Linked DNA regions of Homo sapiens: region 1 is linked to region 2. Evidence: fine-mapped expression QTL. A gene starts in region 2. The other region holds a variant in brackets. All regions are shown on one strand. Distances are between the middles of the regions.

Region 1 (10,100 bases), 110 kb after region 2:
TGTCCCTAGAAATACTGCAGTTATGGAAAATCACATAAGAGAAACCACAGAGCTTATGGGGAAAATAGAGTTAGGGGCACAACACTCAAAAAAATTCATCAGTGGCTGGGCACAGTGGCTCACACCTGTAATCCCAGCACTTTGGGAGGCTGAGGCAGGTGGATCACCTGAGGTCAGGAGTTCGAGACCAGCCTGGCCAACATGGTGAAACCTCGTCTCTACTAAAAATATAAAAATTAGCCTGGCGTGGTGGCATGTGCCTGTAATCTCAGCTGTTTGGGAGGCTGAAGCAAGAGAATCACTTGAACCCGGGAGGTGGAGATTGCAGTGAGCTGAGATCACGCCACTGCATTCAGGTCTGGGCAACAAGAGTGAAACTCCGTCTCAAAAAAAAAAAAAAAGAAAATTCATCAGTAATACAGTAATATAGGAAAGAAAAGAAGATAGGAATGAATAAAAACCAGTAGCATAGTTTTACACATGTTAAATGGCTAAGAAATACATAAGACCACAATACACATGGCACTTTACCTTGAGCCTGCTGTGGAAGTGGGCATCAGAAGGGTTGCTGCTTGTTAGTTTTGTGGGGTGGTGGGAGGAGTCCTTTGAAATGGGACGGAGGCTGGGCATGGTGGCTGATGGCAGTAATCGCAGTTCTTTGGGAGGCGGAGGTGGGCAGATCACTTGAGGGAAGGAGTTCAAGACCAGCCTGGCCAACATGGTGAAACCCTGTCTCTACTAAAAATACAAAAAGTAGCTGGGCATGGTGGTGCACTCCTGTAATCTCAGCTACTCGGGAGGCTGAGACAGGAGAATCGCTTGGACCCAGGAGGCAGACGTTGTAGTGAGCTGAGATCATGCCATTGCATTGCAGCCTGGGCAACAGAGCGAGACTGCGTCTCAAGGAACAACAACAACAACAAAAAAGAAATGGGACAGAAAGTTGTAAGGCCAGATGTGGGTGACTCACCGACTCGCAGCGATGTCGAGGTGTGTTTGTTTTGTGTATTCCAATGTGGCACGGCTCTGCTGGATGCAGCTTTCTGCATTCACAGTGTTTCTCGCAGATGATAGTACACATAAGCACATCCAAAATTTGCATTATGATCAAACTATTCCCTAACATATCAATTGCATTGGAACAAATTTGTGTTTTCAAAACAAGTATTATAGCAGAACTGTTCTATGTAATAAGAGACACTTAATGTGGGAAACAATATCAGATAATATGAAGTCGCAGCTGTCAGTGCCCCATGAGAAGTACGGCTTCTACATGCTCTGAGGATTCAGAAGTAGGGACTCCCATGGCCTACTGGGTCAGGGCAGGCTCTGCTGAGAAGTTGGCACTAGAGTTGGTGTTCTTTTTTTTTTTTTTTTTGAGACAGAGTCTCGCTCTGTTGCCCAGACTGGAGTGCAGTGGCGCGATCTCAGCTCACTGCAGTCTCCGCCTCCTGGGTTCAAGTAATTCTCCTGTCTCAGTCTCCCAAGTAGCTGGGATCATAGGCATGTGCCACCATGCCTTACTAATATTTGTATTTTTTTTTTTAGTAGAGATGGGGTTTCACCATGTTGTCAGGCTAGTCTTGAACTCCCGACCTCAAATGATTTGCCCACTTTGGCCTCCCAAAGTGCTGAGATTACAGGTGTGAGCCACTGCTCCTGGCCCTGGAGCTGGTCCTTTTTTTTTTTTTTTAATTAATTATTTTATTATTATGATTTTTCTGAGTCAGAGTCTCACTCTGTCACCCAGGCTGGTGCGTAGTGGTGCAATCTCTGCTCACTGCAACCTCCACCTCCCGGGTTCAGGCGATTCTCCTGCCTCAGCCTCCTGAGTAGCTAGGACTACAGGTGTGTGCCACCACACCTGGCTAATTTTTGTATTTTTAGTAGAGACACGGTTTTGCCATTTTGGCCAGGCTGGTCTCAAACTCCTGACCTCAAATGATCCGCCTGCCTCGGCCTCCCAAAGTGCTGGGATTATAGGCGTGAGCCACCGCGGCCGGCCGGAGCTGGTCTTTAAGGACCATCCTGGTGTTCTCTCAGAGCACACAGGAACTGGGGAGAGAGATGTATGCTACACCACTGTTCTTCCAACACATTTGTCCTTCCTGAGGTGTATGCCTATTAAAACAGGGTTACCCCCTTTATCCCAACAGTGCAGGGCTTGGAGGGCTCTTCTGGTTGTCTACACTGAGCTTAGCTTCCAACTCTAGGATGGATCACCCTTCCCTCTTCTTTACCAGGCCTGGAGAATGCACGAGAGGGGTCACCAAGCCCTCAGGAGCTCCATGTGCAGGTTCTAGAGCCAACAGTCAAGCTGTGCTGTTCTTGGGGAGGATGGCTCAGAACATTGGATCAGGGAAAAGGGACTCTCTCATTCTTCCCTAAGGTGTCCTTTTGGCTTTTGAAGACATCATGAGAAATGGAGGAAGTGTCTATATTTTTGCTCTCCTGATTGACTAACAGGGATGGAATGACTGAAGATGTGTCTATTCTAACCACTTGAGAATCCGCAGGAGGAAGAACCGCAGCTGTGTTGATCAGTGCAGTGTATTGACACATTGACTGTGGTGGAAGATAGAACCCATGAAGTTTAGCTCTTTGTGTGTGGTGAGGGTTGGGTACGTCTCCATACTCCCAGTATGCTTGACTGGCATTTTGTTGGCTGCCATTGTCGGTGTGGATGTACAGACCCTCTTGTGTGTGTAAATCCAGGAGTGCAGCCTAGATCTGGTGTCACTGCCCCAGCCTTGGAGCTCAAACCACCAGTTCAGTGAAAACTTGGCTCTTTGAGACAAGTGATAATGTTAACTAATTAGCATAATGCTATAGAGTCTAATACATGCTTCTACTTGCTTATTCCATTTCTTTTATTCCCAAGCTTGTTGCTGTGCTGGGAGCTGAGGTTTGTCCCTGCTCTGGAAAACTTCTCATCTAGTGGAGGGACAGACACAGCAATGTGTTGTTGCAGTGCAGGTTTGTTAGCACCATGACAGGCATTCATCTGTGTTTCTGTGGATTCCCAAGAGGAAGTACGTAATTCTACCCAGGATAAAGGGCTCTGGTGAGTGCTTCTAAGAAGTATTGACTATAGGCAATATATATTGATTATTTCTTCTTCATCAGGAGCTGCTGCATTGAACAGTCTGCAGGTACTATGGTGTTGAGTCCTTCCAGCAGGCATCAGCCCATATTGCAGAGGACAGTTTGAGTAGAGGAGCTAGGGCAACATCCCAGATTTTCTGACTTCAAGTGTGGTGCTCCTCTCAGGATACTCTGCTGCCATTTACCGGCAGGGGTGCCCCTCAGAGCCAGAACTATGAGCCAGACAGAACCATCTCCTCTACTGTTCCCATGGAAACAGCAAAATTGTCCCCTGGCTGGGGCCAACTGGCAAGTGCCAGACCAAGACATGCAATAATAACAATAACACACATTTTTCAAATGAAGATGCCAAATGGGTAAATAATGAATATACCAATTTGACCTGCTGTTTCCAAAACTTGCACACCCTTCCTAAGACAGTGGTGGAATTAAGGCTCTTGAGTAATTAATTTTGCCTAAACACATAACAAGGGGGAAGTGAATTTTGCACTGTGAACCCAGTTCAGCTCTTAAAACTGGAGATAGACTGCTTTTGCACACTGGCTCCCGATCACAACATCTGTGCATAATTAAGCCTCCGCAAAGACTTTACCTCTCAGTGTGTGAGGCATCTTCCGGTGCTTATGTGCGGTTTAAGAACCTCAGCCCTGTGCTATAAATCTCCCAGGCTCAGACAAGCACTGAATGCAAATATGGCGTCAGGGGGACTGGGAGAGGGTGAGGGGGCAGCTAGGCTGAATGATTAAGGCCAGGCTTAGTGGATCTGGCAGCAGAGCGTATGTGCCAGGGGATGGAAACAGGACAAGTGGTAGGGTTTGTGACTCACCTGGGGACAAGGTGGCAGGGGAGAAGCTTTATAACCACAGGGTTTGGGACTGGAAGTGATGAGACCATTTCTGTATGTGTGGAGGTGGGGATAGGTGTGCAGGGCCATGCCAGGGTTCCTTAGTGTGAGGTAAGGAGCCCAGGACTCTAGAAATTGTGGACAAACCCTGAGGAGATGTGCATGCTTTTTGGGAAGTATGATAACTTCCCATGAATCTCAAAGATTAGGAACTACAGATGGATAGTAATTAATATATAACTTCTTTTTTGCAGAGTGATTTATATTCTTTAATTCTTTAATTCTTACAACAGCCTCACAAGGGAGGTGCCATAATCACCCCCATATCATCAGTTGGGAGACTGAGGCTCAGAGCTATCAACCCTTTGGGCAGGGTCACAAGGCTTACCACTAAGGGGAGGGAATAGAGGTAGCCTGCTCCAGAGCCTGCATGTTCACCCTCCATATGGTTTTGCTCTGTGGGGAAGTTGTGAATTCCAGTGAACCGTCTAGAGCATAACTCTCAGCCCTGGTGTGTATCAGAGCCCTCTGTGAAACTCGATGTGGCTGTCCTAAGAGCAATCGATGTTTTTTCCAGCAGCTGCTAGTGTCTGGTTCCATGTTGAGTGCCAGTACTCTGCTCATAGTAGTGGGAAATGGGGGCGGAGGTGGGGTTGTGCTTCCACTGTAACCATTATCACCATATTTTTGGTGGAGAAACTGGTGTTCAGAGAGGTTATATAACTTACCCACAGTCACACAGCTTTTAGGTGGCAGAGCCGGGGCTCCAGCCAGCAGCCTGACTCCAAATCTGCCGGTCTGACTGCATGTCTCCAGGCCTTCTGCTGTGCTGGACTCAGGCTCCAGGAGGACTGTGGGCCTAGGGTGATGGGCACTGTCTCAGACAAGCCAGGCGCAGCCTGTTTCGTGGGCATGTTGACCAAAGCATAGAAACAAAGCAGAAATGTGAGGTCAGGGCCAGACTGTGAGGCTGAGGCCCAGGGTCTTGGGCTAAAACTTCTCTAATTGGTGCCCTCCTTCTTGGGGTCCAGATTGGCATCCGTGTGGGAGGCAGGAGGAGCCCACAGGAGGGAGGCCTCTGCTCTGTGGCAAAGAGGTAGAACCTGGACCCAGGGGTCCTAATGGTCAGGGTGTGACCCTGCTGGTGGGGCCGCTGAGCACCCTGGCCATGAGCTCCTTAGAGTTTCAGCTTGCTTTGTTTGGGGGTGGGATGGGGGAGTGCGGGGTGCTTATTGACTCTTTCAAATTTCTCTTTTTCATTTTTTCCTTCTTTGATGGAAGAAGCATAGGACAGGAAATGTGGGCGCTCACTTCACCCCACACCCCCAGGTCCTCCTGCCCATCTGGTGATTTAGGCGCAGCTCACTTTTTTAACTGAGCAGGAGCAGTTTGGCATTTTGCAGTCATTTCCA[T/C]GTTATGTCTGTCCAGGGGCACCTGTGGTTCTGAAGCTCCCATGACAAATTCCACTGTTTCCCAGGTTTGATATTTTAGTCATTTCAGATTTAAGCAGCAGAAGCAAGGGGCACATTCTGTGGTTAGACTGGAATGGTGATGTTTGCAGGGAGACCAAAAAGGGGGAAACCGCAGTACACCCAGGACCCTGATGCACAAGCACAGAGAAGCTCCAGCCTGTGGGATTTCTGTTTCCACCTGTGACTCTTTCCTAGCTGGTTTTTTTTTTTTTTTTTTTTGAGATGGAATCTCACTCCCTCTGTCACCGTGGCTGGAGTACAGTGGCGTATTCTTCACCCACTGCAACCTCCGTCTCCCAGGTTCTAGCGATTCTCTTTCCTCAGCCTCAGTGATCTGCCCTCCTTGGCCTCTCAAAGTGCTGGGATTACAGGCGTGAGCCACTGCGCCCAGCCCCTCGCTGTTTTTTAAGCTGCCTCTGGTGGGGCTGGCTAGAGATTTGACCTCTTGTCTCCAGAGCCTTAGGGGCCCACTGTCAAAGGTAGGTTTACAAACAAACCCAAGGGAAGAATTTAACCCGAAAATATGTCCCATTCATTTGGAAGCCATGAACAAAAACAACAGGCAGGGCACGGTGGCTCACGCCTGTAATCCCAGCACTTTGAGAGGCTGAGGCAGGAGGATCTCTTGAGTCCAGGAGTTCGAGGCTGCAGTGCGCTATGATGATGCCACAGCATTCCAGCCTGGGTGACAGAATGAGACCCTGTCTCTAAAGAAACCGACAAAGCAACAATAGCAAACATGCACTCACTTTTTTAAAAAGAAACTTTTTGAAAAATGCCAAGCAAGTCTAAATTTTAAGTTCAAAGTATCAGTTTCACAGATTTCTCTATTGGCCCAGATTTTCAAATGGCAGAAACCGCAGTCAAGCAGCAAACCAAAATAACACCTTGCTTTCTGGTGGAAACTTTGTTCCAACTAGAGCATTTCACTTGTATGTACAGCCCCCATTTATCCTCAGAGGTCCTTACTGAGATAGGGCAGAAACAATTCTGCTTTCCAGTGAGGAAGACTGGGATGTAAAGAAGTTAAGTGGCTAGTCTAAGACACAACAGTATTAGCAGAATTAGGAACAGGAAATAGGTCTGTTGACTTGAGGGCCACTATGTTATTGCTAGATGAATTTGGGTGGTCAGGGTAAAGGAAAATCTTACTCTCCAAAACATTTGAAAAAGCTGCCCATGTTTCTTTATTTGTAAGAGGAAATAAACTCCTCACAATTTGGGGGAAACTCGGCATGCTGGAAGCCCAGTAACCCCTCCCTCCTGGCTGTGGGGGTACTGGTGGGTGTCCCTTGCTCACATGGCAGCCTGGTTGCATTCTAGTCTCTTGCCCGCTCCTGGAGAAATCTGTTCTCTTTTTGGTTTTTGAGTGTTATGAGAGTCAGAGAGGGTTGGAGAGTGTATGTTAGTAATGCATTTGTCTGTAGGCAACTGAAAGCCTCATTTAGAGTGCCTTAAACAAAAGAATTTGTTGTCTTCACATAGCAAGAAGGTTTGCAGTGGTTGCCTACTGACATATGGTTTTGGTGGTTTAACAGTACCAGAGCTGGCTTCTCAGATTTTTAAATTTTTTTATTTTTCCTCATTGTTGCAAGATGGCTGCTACAGCACCAACAGTCACATTCACATTCACTTTCGAGGCAAGAAGAGAAGTGGAAGAAGAGTAGCACTATGCAAATACCCCCTTTTTTTTAAATCAAGGAAATAAAAACCTTCCCAGAATCCCCTAGCAGGTTTCCATTTTTGTTCATAAGTCAGAACTATGTCACATGGCCATACCTACTATAAAGCAGGCAAGGAAAGTATTTAGGTTTTTTATTTGTTTGTTTGTTTTCAGACAGGATCTTGCTCTGTTGCCCAGGCTGGAGTGCAGTGGTGTGATGTATAAGGTCACAGCACACTGGCTTTGACAGCGATCCTCCCACCTTAGCCTCCCAAGCTGGGATCACAGGCACGCACCACTATGCCTGGCTAATTTTTGTATTTACTGTAGAGACAGGGTTTCGCCACGTTGCCCAGGCTGGTCTTGAACTTCTGAGCTCAAGCAATCCACCTGCCCCAGCCTCCCAAAGTGCTGGGATTATAGGTGTGAGCCACTCCGCCTGGCCCCAGTATTTAGTTTTTTTCATCTCTAGGGAAGAGGAGGGTTGGGAATAGATGTTGGGTTAATATCCAATGTTGTCTGCCCCAGGAAACGTGTTTTCCTACAGGAAACAGGCATGAGAAACAAAATTTATCATCTGGTTAAAACTCAGTCATTTGCTCAATACACACAATGCACCCATTACCTGGGTGAAATATTGGAGGCAGAGGGAGGAGTCCGAAGTAGGCCTGGTGGCGGGATGGGGAGAGGAAATATCCTTAACAGCAATGCCCAGGTGTGAGGTGTTCCAACATTTTCCTCCCAAGTCCCAACTTTAGTTTTGGCTCTTAACAGCATTAGAAGGCACTGAGGAGAGTTGGCAAAGCCGGTATCTAAAGGAGTGGGCGGAGGCCTGCTGAGCAGAGGTGGAGTAGCCAGCCTCCCTCTTGGCCTGGCTGTCCCATCCCCACTGTCACCGCTGAGGTCCCTCCTGGGCCTCTTCTCCCTTGCTCTGGGAGGAGCCTCTGTTGCTGTCTGGCTCGCTGTGCCACATTGTCATCCTTGCCCGATTCCCAGCTTCCCCAGACCATCTGACCTGTCCCTTCCTATCCCAGGTCCCCCGAATCCACTGGGACCTGTCCACGGAGCGGGTCCTCCTGATGGAGTTTGTGGATGGCGGGCAGGTCAATGACAGAGACTACATGGAGAGGAACAAGATCGACGTCAATGAGGTGAGGTCAAGAGCTCAGGGCTGCTGTGCCGGGGAACGTGGGCTTGGTCAAGGCTGCCCAGGAAGTGCCTGTGTGTCCAGGTGAGGCCTCAGAGTCTGGCCCCCTTGTCTTTAATAGGGCCCATTGTCTGGAGAATTATAAACTTTGAGCAAGAAAGATTCTTTCAGGTCATTTAGGCCAGCCCTGTGCACACAGCGGCCTGCAGGGACATGCTGAACCCCTTCTGCCATTACCTGCTTTTCCTTTGTACCATCTGAGCCCCACAAAGCTAAGCGGCCACAGAGAACAATGATGCAAAATCAGTGGGACTTAATCCTTTTGGCTCTGTGGGGCCTGTCTGTTGTCTCTTCCCTCTTCCTGCCCTTCTCTCTCCTTCCCACTTCCCAGATCTCAAGGGATCAGGCAAAAAGGGGACAGCAGCAACCAACTGCATCAGCCTCCTAGAGCAGGAAAAAAGAGGTGGGCTTTGTGTGTCCCCCCTCCCATCCCCCTTGTCCCAGGGAATACTGGCCAGTGGGTAGGACCTGTCCCTCACTTTCTGCTTCTTGGTTGCACAGGGTCCCACAGGAATGGGTGGAGTTGTACTTTTTCAACAACATTCATAATTTCATTTTTATGTTTTTAGAGATGGGGTCTTGCTCTGTTGCCTAGACTGGCGTGCAGTGGCACAATCATAGTTCACTGTAATCTGGAACTCCTGGGCTCAAGCAGTCCTCCCACTTTGGCCTCTCAAAGTGCTGGCATTACAGGTGTGAGCCACGTGGCCAGGCTCAACATTGATCATTTTAATAGTGTCTGCTATATGCTAGGTATGGGGGCTCGCAGGGGGACCAGACCTAGTCCCCAGAGCTTAGCATCAGAGTCAGACACACATCTAAATCCTTGCTGTATCTCAGGCAGCGAGAGGGTGTGAGGAGAACCCCAGGGAGAGTGAGGAAGAGGCACTGAGGCCTGCCACAGGTTGGTGTCCCCAGCAGGATGAGTAGGAGTTTTCCAGGGAGTGGCTTTGCAAGAAGGGGAAGGGAATGGGTGAAGTTTGGCAGGGCTGGGGCAGGATTCCTTGGGGTGTGTGGGGAGATAAAGTAATGGTCTTGGGTGTGACCTTGAGGCACTGTGGAGTCACTTCAGGGTTTTGGGGAGTGCAGCAACATGTTCTGCCCTCTGGGATGGAAGGAAGGAAGTGGGCCACGCCCAGTGGAGGTAAATGCTTTTTTTTTTTTTTTTTTTTTCCCTGAGACGGAGTTTTGCTCTTGTTGCCTAGGCTGGAGTGCAATGGCGCAATCTTGGCTCACTGCAACCTCCGCCTCCTGGGTTCAAGTGATTCTCCTGCCTCAGCCTCCCAAGTAGCTGGGATTACAGGCATGCGCTACCATGCCTGGCTAATTTTGTATTTTTAGTAGAGACAGGGTTTCTCCATATTGGTCAGGCTGGTCTTGAACTCCTGACCTCGGGTGATCCGCCTGCCTCGATCTCCCAAAGTGCTGGGATTACAGGCGTGAGCCACCGCGCCTGGCTGTGAATGCTCTTTTCTATTCCACTCCCCATGTCCACAGGCAGTGCATGAAGATGAGCGTGAGCATGTGGTCCCAATGGGGAGTTGGCCCACAGGAGAAAGCCATACCTTGGCTCAGCAGATGAGCCCAGGGGGGTGGCAGGGGAGTGTGGTGGTTGCACAGGCCTCCTGGTGGCCATGTGACTGCTGTAAATGGGGTCAGTATCTGCCTCTAAGAGGGGCTGTGAAGACTATGTGAGTTAGGGTGCAAACAGTGCTAAGCACAGTGCCTGGTGTGTGGCTAGCATTCCAGAAGAGTAGCTGGGTGGTGGTTGTTGATTTCCTTATATTATCTTTGGGCTCTGTTCTTTCT
Region 2 (10,100 bases):
AACAACAACAACAACAACAAAGCAAGTTTGAGTCTTCACATTAAGCCTGTACCACTGTTGTAACATGGGAAGACATGAAGAAGAAATGATCTGAGCTTTAATCATTTATATTCGGACATAAGGTCCACCAAGATAAAGAACATCTGTACCAAACTGCCCCCTCCCCACAAAATTCAAGTATTGATAAGTGATTTTAAATAAATTTTATAAATAAAACAGTGTAAGGAGGTAGAGTGTGTCTCAGGGAATGTGGGGGTGAGTGGGGAGATAGGGGTAATTGGGGATGACCTCTCTGGAGAGTAACATTAGCAGAGAACAAATTGCCAGGATGGAGCAGACCATTGAAGATATGGGGGAATAGCAAGTGTAACGGCTGCCCAGATAGCAGCCAGCTTGGCAGATTGAGAACAGAAAGGAAGCTGATGCGGTTGGAGTGGAGTGAGCCAGGGAAGAGAAGGGTGGGAAATGAGGCTGGAGAGAGGGAGTGGAGCCAGCCTCTGGGGAGCCAGGAGGGTCAGGCTGAAGGGGTGGGTTGCCCCTCCACACCTGTGGGTGTTTCTCGTAAGGTGGAACGAGAGACTTGGAAAAGAAAAAGACACAGAGACAAAGTATAGAGAAAGAAATAAGGGGACCCTGGGGACCAGCGTTCAGCATATGGAGGATCCCGCCAGCCTCTGAGTTTTCTTAGTATTTATTGATCATTCGTGGGTGTTTCTCCGAGAGGGGGATGTGTCAGGGTCACAAGACAATAGTGGGGAGAGGGTCAGCAGACAAACACGTGAACAAAGGTCTTTGCATCATAGACAAGGTAAAGGATTAAGTGCTGTGCTTTTAGATATGCATACACATAAACATCTCAATGCTTTACAAAGCAGTATTGCTGCCCGCATGTCCCACCTCCAGCCCTAAGGCGCTTTTCCCCTATCTCAGTAGATGGAACGTACAATCGGGTTTTATACCGAGACATTCCATTGCCCAGGGACGGGCAGGAGACAGATGCCTTCCTCTTGTCTCAACTGCAAGAGGCATGCCTTCCTCTTATACTAATCCTCCTCAGCACAGACCCTTTACAGGAGTTGGGCTGGGGGACGGTCAGGTCTTTCCCTTCCCACGAGGCCATATTTCAGACTATCACATGGGGAGAAAACTTGGACAATACCTGGCTTTCCTAGGCAGAGGTCCCTGCGGCCTTCCGCAGTTTTTGTGTCCCTGGGTACTTGAGATTAGGGAGTGGTGATGACTCTTAAGGAGCATGCTGCCTTCAAGCATCTGTTTAACAAAGCACATCTTGCACCGCCCTTAATCCATTTAACCCTGAGTTTGACACAGCACATGTTTCAGAGAGCACGGGGTTAGGGGTAAGGTCACAGAATCTCAAGGCAGAAGAATTTTTCTTAGTACATAACAAAATGGAGTCTCCCATGTCTATTTCTTTCTACACAGACACAGTAACAATCTGATCTCTCTTGCTTTTCCCCACATCAGGCAAAGAGTTTGGATTTTCTTCTCAGTGTCATGACACTCCTCTGAACAGCAACATTCAGCTTCCAAAGCACTTGCACCATTGCACTTGATCCTCACAAGCCCTTTGAGGTAGATAGGACTGACAATAGTATTAACTCCATTTTATCAAGACAGAAACTAAAGCTCTGCCAAAATTAGAAAACCTGCTGTGAGTCACCCAGTTCAAATAAGATTCTTTGACTCTAAATCGGGGTTTTTAACCTCAGCTGTGCATTGAAATCCTACAGGGAGCTCTACAAAATACCTATGACTCAGTCCCATTCCCAGTAGTTGAAGGGGTGCTAGTGCCAGCTATGGCCCAGGAAGACTTTTAAAGCTCTCCAGGTGATTTTTTTTTTTAGACTGGGTTTTTCTCTGTCACCCAGGCTGGAATGCGGTGGTGGTGCAATCATGCCTCACTGTACCCTTGACCTTCTGGGCTCAAGTTATCTTCCCACGTGAGCCTCCTGAGTAGTTGGGATTTTAGGCATGAGCCACTGTGCCTGGCCCTTATTATTATTTTATTTTTAATTTATTATTATTTTTTGAGATGGAGTCTTGCTCTGTCACCCAGGCTGGAGTGCAGTGACATGATCTCGGCTCACTGCAACCTCTGCCTCCTAGGTTCAAGCGAGTATCCTGCCTTAGCCTCTAGAGCAGCTGGGACTACAGGCGTGTGACACCACGCCCAGCTAAGTTTTGTATTTTTAGTAGAGACGGGGTTTCACCATGTTGGCCAGGCTGGGCTGGAATTCCTGACCTCAAGTGATCTGCCTGCCTTGGCCTCCCTAAGTGCTGGGATTACAGGTGTGAGCCACTGCACCTGGCCTAATGCTCCCTTTTTTCTGTTCCTAAGCCACTTTGTTCATACCTCAATCTTAACACTTCTCACATTATTTGGAAGTTATCAATCTTCTTATCTTAATGCCTATACATTGCAAACTTTAGATGGTGGGGGCTGTGTTATTTAACTCTATACTACTGCTACCTCTGTGCTGCAATTATCTTTTTTTTTCTTTTTTAGTGACCGGGTTTAGCTCTCTCTCTGTTGCCCAGCTGGAGTGCAGTGGCAAGACTCATCAAAGCTCACTGCAGCCTTGAACTCCTGGGCTCAAGATCCTCCCTCCCTGGCCTCCAGAGTAGCTGGGACTACAGGCATGCGCCACCATGCCCAGCTAATTTTTAATTTTTCTGTAATCTCATAGGGTCTGGCTATGTTGCTCAGGCTGGTCTCTAACTCCCAGCTTCAAGCGATTCTCCTGCCTTGGCCTCCCAAACTGTCGTGGTTACAGGGATAAGCCACTGTGCTCAGTCTATGCTGTCTTTCAATAAAGACAAGTGCTTAAATTTAATGTAGTTTAAATTTATCAAAGTTTTATTTACAGTTTGTGATTATGGCACTTAATAAACCCTACCCTGAGATCATAAGGATGTTTTCTTTTCTTGTAAAAGTTATAATTTTGGGGAACGATAGTAAGAAGAAAAAAAAAGTTGTAATTTTAAAATGCTTTAATTTCCCCTGTAAGTCTTTAACCTACCTTGAATTAGTTTTTGCATAGGGGATCCAACAGGTAACTGGTTGTTCCAGCCCATGTACTGAATACTCTATCTTCCCTCACTGAACTATAATTCCAGCCATACCTCATTTCATAGATGCCTGCATGTTTGGGCTCTGTAGGTGGTTCCATTTCCCCCTCTGCCTTTCCCTATTCCAATATCACATGGTCTTAATTTGTATAGCTTTATAATACATGTTGACATGGAAGGGTGCGTCCTTGAAACACATTTTTCTTCTTCAAGAATGTTTTGGCTATGCTTTGCCTTAAAGTGGTGGTTTTTTTTTGTTTTTTGTATTTTTTTTTTTTTTTGAGACAAAGTCTCGCTCTGTCACCCAGGCTGGAATTCAGTGGTATGATCTTGGCTCACTGCAACATTTGTCTCCCGGGTTCAAGGATTCTCTTGCCACAGCCTTCTGAGTAGCTGGGATTACAGGTGTGCACCACCATGCCTGGCTAATTTTTGTATTTTAGTAGAGATGGGGTTTTACCATGTTGGCCAGGCTGGTGATGAACTCCTGACCTCAACTGATCCACCTGCCTTAGCCTCCCAACGTGCTGGGATTACAGGCACGAGCCACTGCGCTGCCCTTTGTTTTTTCATACACACTTTTGATTAGTTTGTGAAGGTCCAGAAAAAATTATGTTGGAAATTTGATTGGAACTGCATTGGACTGATAGATTAATTCCCCCATGAAAAAAATAGCTCAAGAGATGTTTATAGAATAAACAAACGTCTGAGGCCTGGCGTGGTGGCTCACACCTGTAATCCCAGCACTTTGGGAGGCCAAGGCCAGAGGATGGCTTAGCACAGAAATTCGAGACCAGCCTGGGCAATATAGTGAGACCACACCCCCCAGCTTTTCTTGAGAAAAAATTTAAAAAATTTAGCCAGGCGTGGCAGTATGTGCTTGTAGTCCCAGCTACTCCACAGACTGAGGCAGGAGGGTACCTTGAGGACAGGAAGTTGAGGCTACAGTGATGGAGCCTCTACACTCCAGCTTGGGCAACACAGCCAGACCCTGTCTCAAAAAAAAAAAGAGAAATGTTTTTGATACATGTCTTCAAAGTGCATCTTATAAGTCAACATTTGATAATGGAGATCAGTGAATGAATGAATAAGGGCCAAAGATAACTAAGATTAGCTAGCATATTATATTTATTTATTTATTTATTTTGAGACGAGTCTTGCTCTGTTGCCCAGGCTGGAGTGCAGTGGCCCAATCTCAGCTCACTGCAACCTCCACCTCCTGGGTTCAAGCAATTCTCCCACCTCAGCCTCCCGAGTAGTTGGGATAACAGGTGCCCGCCACTATGCTGGGCTAATTTTTCTTTTTCTTTTTTTTCTTTTTGGAGACAGAGTCTCACTCTGTTGCCTAGGCTGGAGTGCAGTGGCGTGATCTCAGCTCACTGCAACCTCCGCCTCCCGGGTTCAAGCGATTCTCCTGCCTCAGCTTCCTGAGTAGCTGAAATTCCAGACGTGCACCACCACACCAGGCTAATTTTTGTATTTTTAGCAGAGACAGATTTCACTATGTTGGCCAGGCTGGTCTCAAATTCCCGGCCTCAAGTGGTCCGCCCACCTTGGCCTCCCAAGGTGCTGGGATTACAGGAATGAGCCACCGCACCCGGCTTAATTTTTCTATTTTTAGTAGAAATGGGGTTTCACTATGTCGGCCTGGCTGGTCTCCAACCCCTAGCCTCAGGTGATCTGCCCGCCTCAGCCTCCCAAAGTGCTGGGATTACAGGTGTGAGCTACTGCGTCCTGCCCAGCCAGCATTATTATTATTATTTTTGAGACGGAGTTTCGCTGTTGTTGCCTAGGCTGGAGTGCAATGGCGTGACCTCGGCTCACCGCAACTTCTGCCTCCCGGGTTTCTAGTGCCTCAGCCTCCTGAGTAGCTGGGATTACAGGCATGCACCACTAGGCCTGGCTAATTTTTGCTATTATTAGTAGGGACGGGGTTTCTCCATGTTGGTCAGGTTGGTCTCAAACTCCCGACCTCAGGTGATCTGCTAGCCTTGGCCTGCTGGGATTACAGGCGTGAGCCACCGCCCCGCCAGCATACATCAATTGTCAGTAAATTTCTTCTTCGCCTACTAGTTCCAATATCTTATTTAAAATCTATGGCCCGGTGAGGTGGCTCAGGCTTGTAATCCCAGCACTTTGGGAAGTCAAGGCGGGTGGATTGCCTGAGTTCAGGAGTTCAAGACCAGCCTGGGCAAAATGGCGAAACCCCGTCACTCCTAAAAATACAAAAAATTAGCAGGGCGTGGTAGCACACTCCTGTAATCCCAGCTACTCAGGAGGCTGAGGCAGGAGAATCACTTGAACCCGGGAGGCGGAGGTTGCAGTGAGGCGAGATGGGCCACTGCACTCCAGCTTGGGCGACAGAGTGAGACTCTGTCTCAAAATGAATGAATGAATGAATGAATGAATGAATAAAATCTACGAGGTCGGGCGCAGTGGCTCACTCTTGTAATCCCAGCACTTTGGGCGGGCGGATCATTTGAGGTCAGGAGTTTGAGACCGGCTTGGCCAACATGGTGAAACCCCATCTCTAAAAAAAATACAAAAATTAGCTGTACTGCTTGGGCGACAGAGCGAGACTCAGTCTCAAAAAAAAAAAATCTACAAATCCACTTCATCTTTCATTAAACACGAACCTGGGACGTAGTTAGAATGTCTTGAAGAAAATATTTCAGTAATATTCCAAGTCCGTCGCCCTGGCAAAGCAACAAGGCCACCTGACGGAGTAAGCCCGAGACCCCTGTGCCTCCACAGTACTGCCCGCGGGATCGCGGCGTGGGGAACCAGGAACTACAAGTCCCGGCAGGCCGCGCGCGCCTCGGCTTCACTAAGCGCAGTCAGGTGGCTGTCCCCGCACGGTTCCCAGCTAATTCCCCGCTACCGGGTTGCGGCCGGAAGCCGGGCGCCGCGGCTCTGCTTCCCTCGGGGTGAGTAGGGGCAGCTCGCCGGAGGCCGGCGCAGAGCTCGGGCCGACCAGCCTGGCAGGGCCGCACCGCGCCTGGAGCGCGAGGGAACCGGCATGGACACGCCGGGAGTCGGCCTCTGCTCCGGTTGTGCAGCCGCCCTGGGCGCCGGGAGGGACAGCCCCATGACCTTGTCACCTGGGCCCGGCGCGCGGCCACGTGGCTCGGGTGACTCGCATTGCCCCGCCCCCCTGCAGTGACTTCTCCAGTTTGGCACACCAGTGGGCTTTCATGTGACCTGTCCACTTCAGTGGCACAGTCTTGCAGGCACCCGAGTGGGCAGAGCTGGAGGAGGGCCGGAGGTGGCTCACCCAGACGCCTTCACCCCCTGGTGGCCCTGTGAGTTCCGAGGCAGAAGCAGCTGGAGCTGGAGCGTGGTCTGGGCAAGAGCAGGGGGCGATGCCCATATCCTGGCCCTCCACCCGGTCTTGCGAACGTGCCCCAGACCGCTGCTTATCTCCAGCATCTTGCAGGGCCCTGGGCTTCCAGATCACACAGTAGATATGTGCTAACAGCAGCCAGTGTGTGTGGAGAGCAACCTTTAGATAAGACACCTAGAACAGCCCTCTCCCAGGGTTAAGTGGCATTTACTTTCTACTAACAAGAAAGTCATTCAACAAGTATTTATTGTTTACCTCCATGATACTTGGCACTTAGTAGGTGCTCAAGAAATATTTGCAGAGTTGAAGTGAATTAGACTTTATCTGTGGCTTCATATGTTTTATTTAATAATTTTCTTGGGGCTGGATGTGGTGGCTGATGCCTGTAATCCCAGCACTTTGGGAGGCCAAGATGGGAGGATTGCTTGAGGGCAGGAGTTCAACACCAGGCTGGGCAACATAGTGAGACTCCCGTCTGTATTAAAAGAAAAAAAGGAAAATAAATAAAATAATTTTCTTACTACAGTGGTTCTCAAACTTTAGCATGCACCAGAGTCACCTGGAGAGCTAGTAACAACACACAGTACTGGACCCCATCCCCAAAGTTTCTGATTCTGTAAGTCTGGTATGAGGACCAAGAATTGGCGTTTCTAACATGCACCCAAGTGATGCAGTTGCTGTTGGTCTGGGGACCATACGTTGAGTACCACTGCTTTATAGGAAAAAAAATCCTGTGAACTTAAAGCACTATCTCTTCACACCTGGTTACGGGTCTTTCTGTCTTTATTTGCCAGTTTTACTTTTTTGGTGATTGTAAATATGTGCATATTACTTTGTACACTGTTAACTCCCTCCATATTAATTTATATACAGATTTTAATGTAGTCTATACTTGTCATTTTTCCTGGTTACATCATATTCTACCTTATTGGGTCATTCTTTGCTTGGCCATTTCTCAACTGGCCTCAGGGATGTGCGATTTGATCTGTACTAGAAGAGTGTGCATATTCTTACTTTCTGCTATGCAGTCATTTTCTTGTCAGACAAAGGACCTGTAAGAATATTAGTTGGGGCCGGGTGCGGTGGCTCACACCTGTAATCCCAGCACTTTGGGAGGCTGAGGTGGGCGAATCACTTGAGGTCAGGCGTTCAATGCCAGCCTGGCCAACATGGTGAAACCCCATCTCTACCAAAAATACAAAAAAATTACCTGGGCGTAGTGGTGTGTGCCTGTAGTCCCAGCTACTTGGGAGGCTGAGGAGGAGAACAGCTTGAACCCGGGAGACGGAGGCTGCAGTGAGCCGAGATCGTGTCACTGCACTCCAGCCTGGGCGACTGAGCAAGACTCCGTCTAAAAAAAAAAAATTTAGTTGGGTCAGCCATCCATTTCTTCACCAGGGTAACTCACTAAATATGCCTCCTGGGTTAAGGTTTCCATGTTGCAGGGACTCCAGTGGCCTATTTCAGGGCCCAGCAAGCTGCTTGTTCTTGTGCACTTTTTGCTCTCTTGGTGGGAGCAGTCATACATGGATTCAAGTTCTGCCTCCATCACTTACCAGCTCCTTGGCCAAGTTTTCTACCTTTTCTAAAACACCACTTCCTTATCCATAGATTGAAGCTCTAATAGCATGCACCTCGGAATCTGGTTGTGTGAGTTAATGAGCTAATAAGTGCTTGGTACTGTAGCTCTCCCGTTGGAAGCTCACTCTCTTCTCTTACCTGCTGCTTGCTCTTTGCATCTGGCTTTGCCCTATTCTCCCTCAGTCTGCCTTTCCTAGGATGGACTGAATGGAGGATTTCTATTCCTTGCCTGGGTGAGAATTATTTTTGTTGTCTATTCTGGGACCTTGGCATCAGTCAGGGATTCCTTTTTTTATTTTTTGAGACAGAGTGTTGCTCTGTCGCCCAGGCTGGAGTGCAGTGGCACGATCTTGGCTCACTGCAGCCTCTGCCTCTCGGGTTCCAGCAATTCTCTTGCTTCAGCCTCCCGGGATTCCTTTATTTAATCAACATTGATTTAAGGACCTTGAGTGCTTAGGCATCAAACACTAGGAAAGGGAGTTTGATTAAAATTTGGTTCCTAGCCGGGCGCGGTGGCTCACGCCTGTAATCCCAGCACTTTGGGAAGCCAAGGCGGGCGGATCACGAGGTCAGGAGATCGAGACCATCCTGGCTAACATGGTGAAACACCGTCTCTACTAAAAAAAATACAAAAAAATTAGCTGGGCGTGGTGCCGGGTGCCTGTAGTCCCAGCTACTCAGGAGGCTGAGGCAGGAGAATGGCTGGAACCCGGGAGGCGGAGCTTGCAGTGAGCCGAGATTGCGCCACTGCACTCCAGCCTGGGCGACAGAATGAGACTTCATCTCAAAATAAATAAATAAATACAATTTGGTTCCTGGACTACATTACTATCTTAGGGAGGGCAGACTGTAAACCTGCTCAGGCCAACTTCACACAGTCCCTTGCTATTGACTTGGTGTCTTTGGCATCTTTCCAGACTTGAGGCATGATGGTATCATTCACTTTGTGTGCTTTCTATCCATATCAGGGACCAGGTTCTTCTGAAGACCCTATCACTCTCTCCAAGGGTATTTTTGGGTCTTTTTTCAGTTTTGGGGGCAGACTAGAAGAAATAATGCTCATTGGTATAATAGTCTCTCTAGGAAATGGGAGGAGGCCATGGTCACTTTTCATGGAACTAGAGACCTAAGTGCCTTTTCTCTGTGGTAATTCTCATTTGTGCACCAAACAGGGAAAGGTGATTCCAGGCCTTTAGTCCTGAAATGTAGCATAGGGAGAGGGCTGCCAATGGATGGAAACTGAAAAGGCCTAGCTAGTCACTGACTCCGATGAACAGTAAGTGCTTGGTTTCCCATTTAGTTCTGTCAAGGGGACGGACATTTCGTGTGACCATCAGCTTCCCATTTGTACGTCCCAGACTCTCCTGTTGCTTCATTTTCATAACCTACTGGGGTGTTTCCTGTGGTCCAGCGAGATGGATTCCATTCTTGTCATTGATTTGACAATAAAACAGCCATGTCAGCTTTGCAGCTCTCCTAAACATTTGATAGACTGAAATGGCTTGTTTCTAGTGGGAGGCATTGGTTGATCTTGTGACATCCTGTTGATTTTGGGGGCTCCAAACAGTGCCTCCCACATGCCTGGCACTGGGTCAGAAATCATAGTCTCTGCCCACAGCAACAGTTGCATTTACTTGAGAACAGCAGTAAGGACTTTAGTGAACAGGAGTCCAGGTGTTCCTATCAAAGACGTTACCTGTCATAAAGAGAAGGGCTGAATACTTGGAATGAGTGGGAAGGCCCTGCTCAAGCTCTTAGCCATTTTACTAGCTGAGCCACCTGGGACAAATCTCTCACCCTCTCTGCTCCTTGGTTTCCTCATTTATACCTGGGGATGGTAATAATATTTGTCTCTCCTCACTGGGTTGTGTGGAATATCTAATGAGTTGAGTGTAAAGGGCTCTATTTTAATATAAAGGCTAGTTCTTGCTAGTGTTATTATCTAGTGATTAGGTTTAAGGGTTTTGGTGGCCTCAGACCCCCTGTAAGGTATGTACTGTTAGGAGAGGTGACTCAGGTGAAAGTCAAAAAGGCTAGTAAGCAGAACAGGGCAGGTGATTCATTAACAAAGGGTTTAATAAGGAAA

Direction of the effects. Alleles are on the strand shown, and positions count from the first base shown. SD is a standard deviation of normalised expression in the study named.
For the expression in regulatory T cells of the gene that starts at base 5,956 in region 2, allele C in region 1 goes with a lower level than allele T (large effect, 1.0 SD a copy in Schmiedel 2018).

Evidence for each region.
Region 1: its variant is fine-mapped to the expression of ADCK1 in regulatory T cells (Schmiedel 2018, PIP 0.95).

What each region holds. Positions count from the first base shown.
Region 1 is chr14:77,899,685-77,909,784 of GRCh38, forward strand. ADCK1 (aarF domain containing kinase 1) reads left to right here. Exons shown (of 11, transcript NM_020421.4): 7 at 8,119-8,235. Among named protein-coding and RNA genes, the nearest start is that of ADCK1, 100 kb to the left of the region's middle. The variant T/C (reference allele first, on the strand shown) is at 5,362.
Region 2 is chr14:77,794,154-77,804,253 of GRCh38, forward strand. It overlaps ADCK1 (aarF domain containing kinase 1), which reads left to right and starts at 5,956. Exons shown (of 11, transcript NM_020421.4): 1 at 5,956-6,017. RefSeq lists silencers at 2,067-2,116, 2,127-2,176, 5,882-6,241 and enhancers at 5,281-5,819, 5,820-6,358, 6,432-6,481, 6,492-6,571, 7,953-8,792.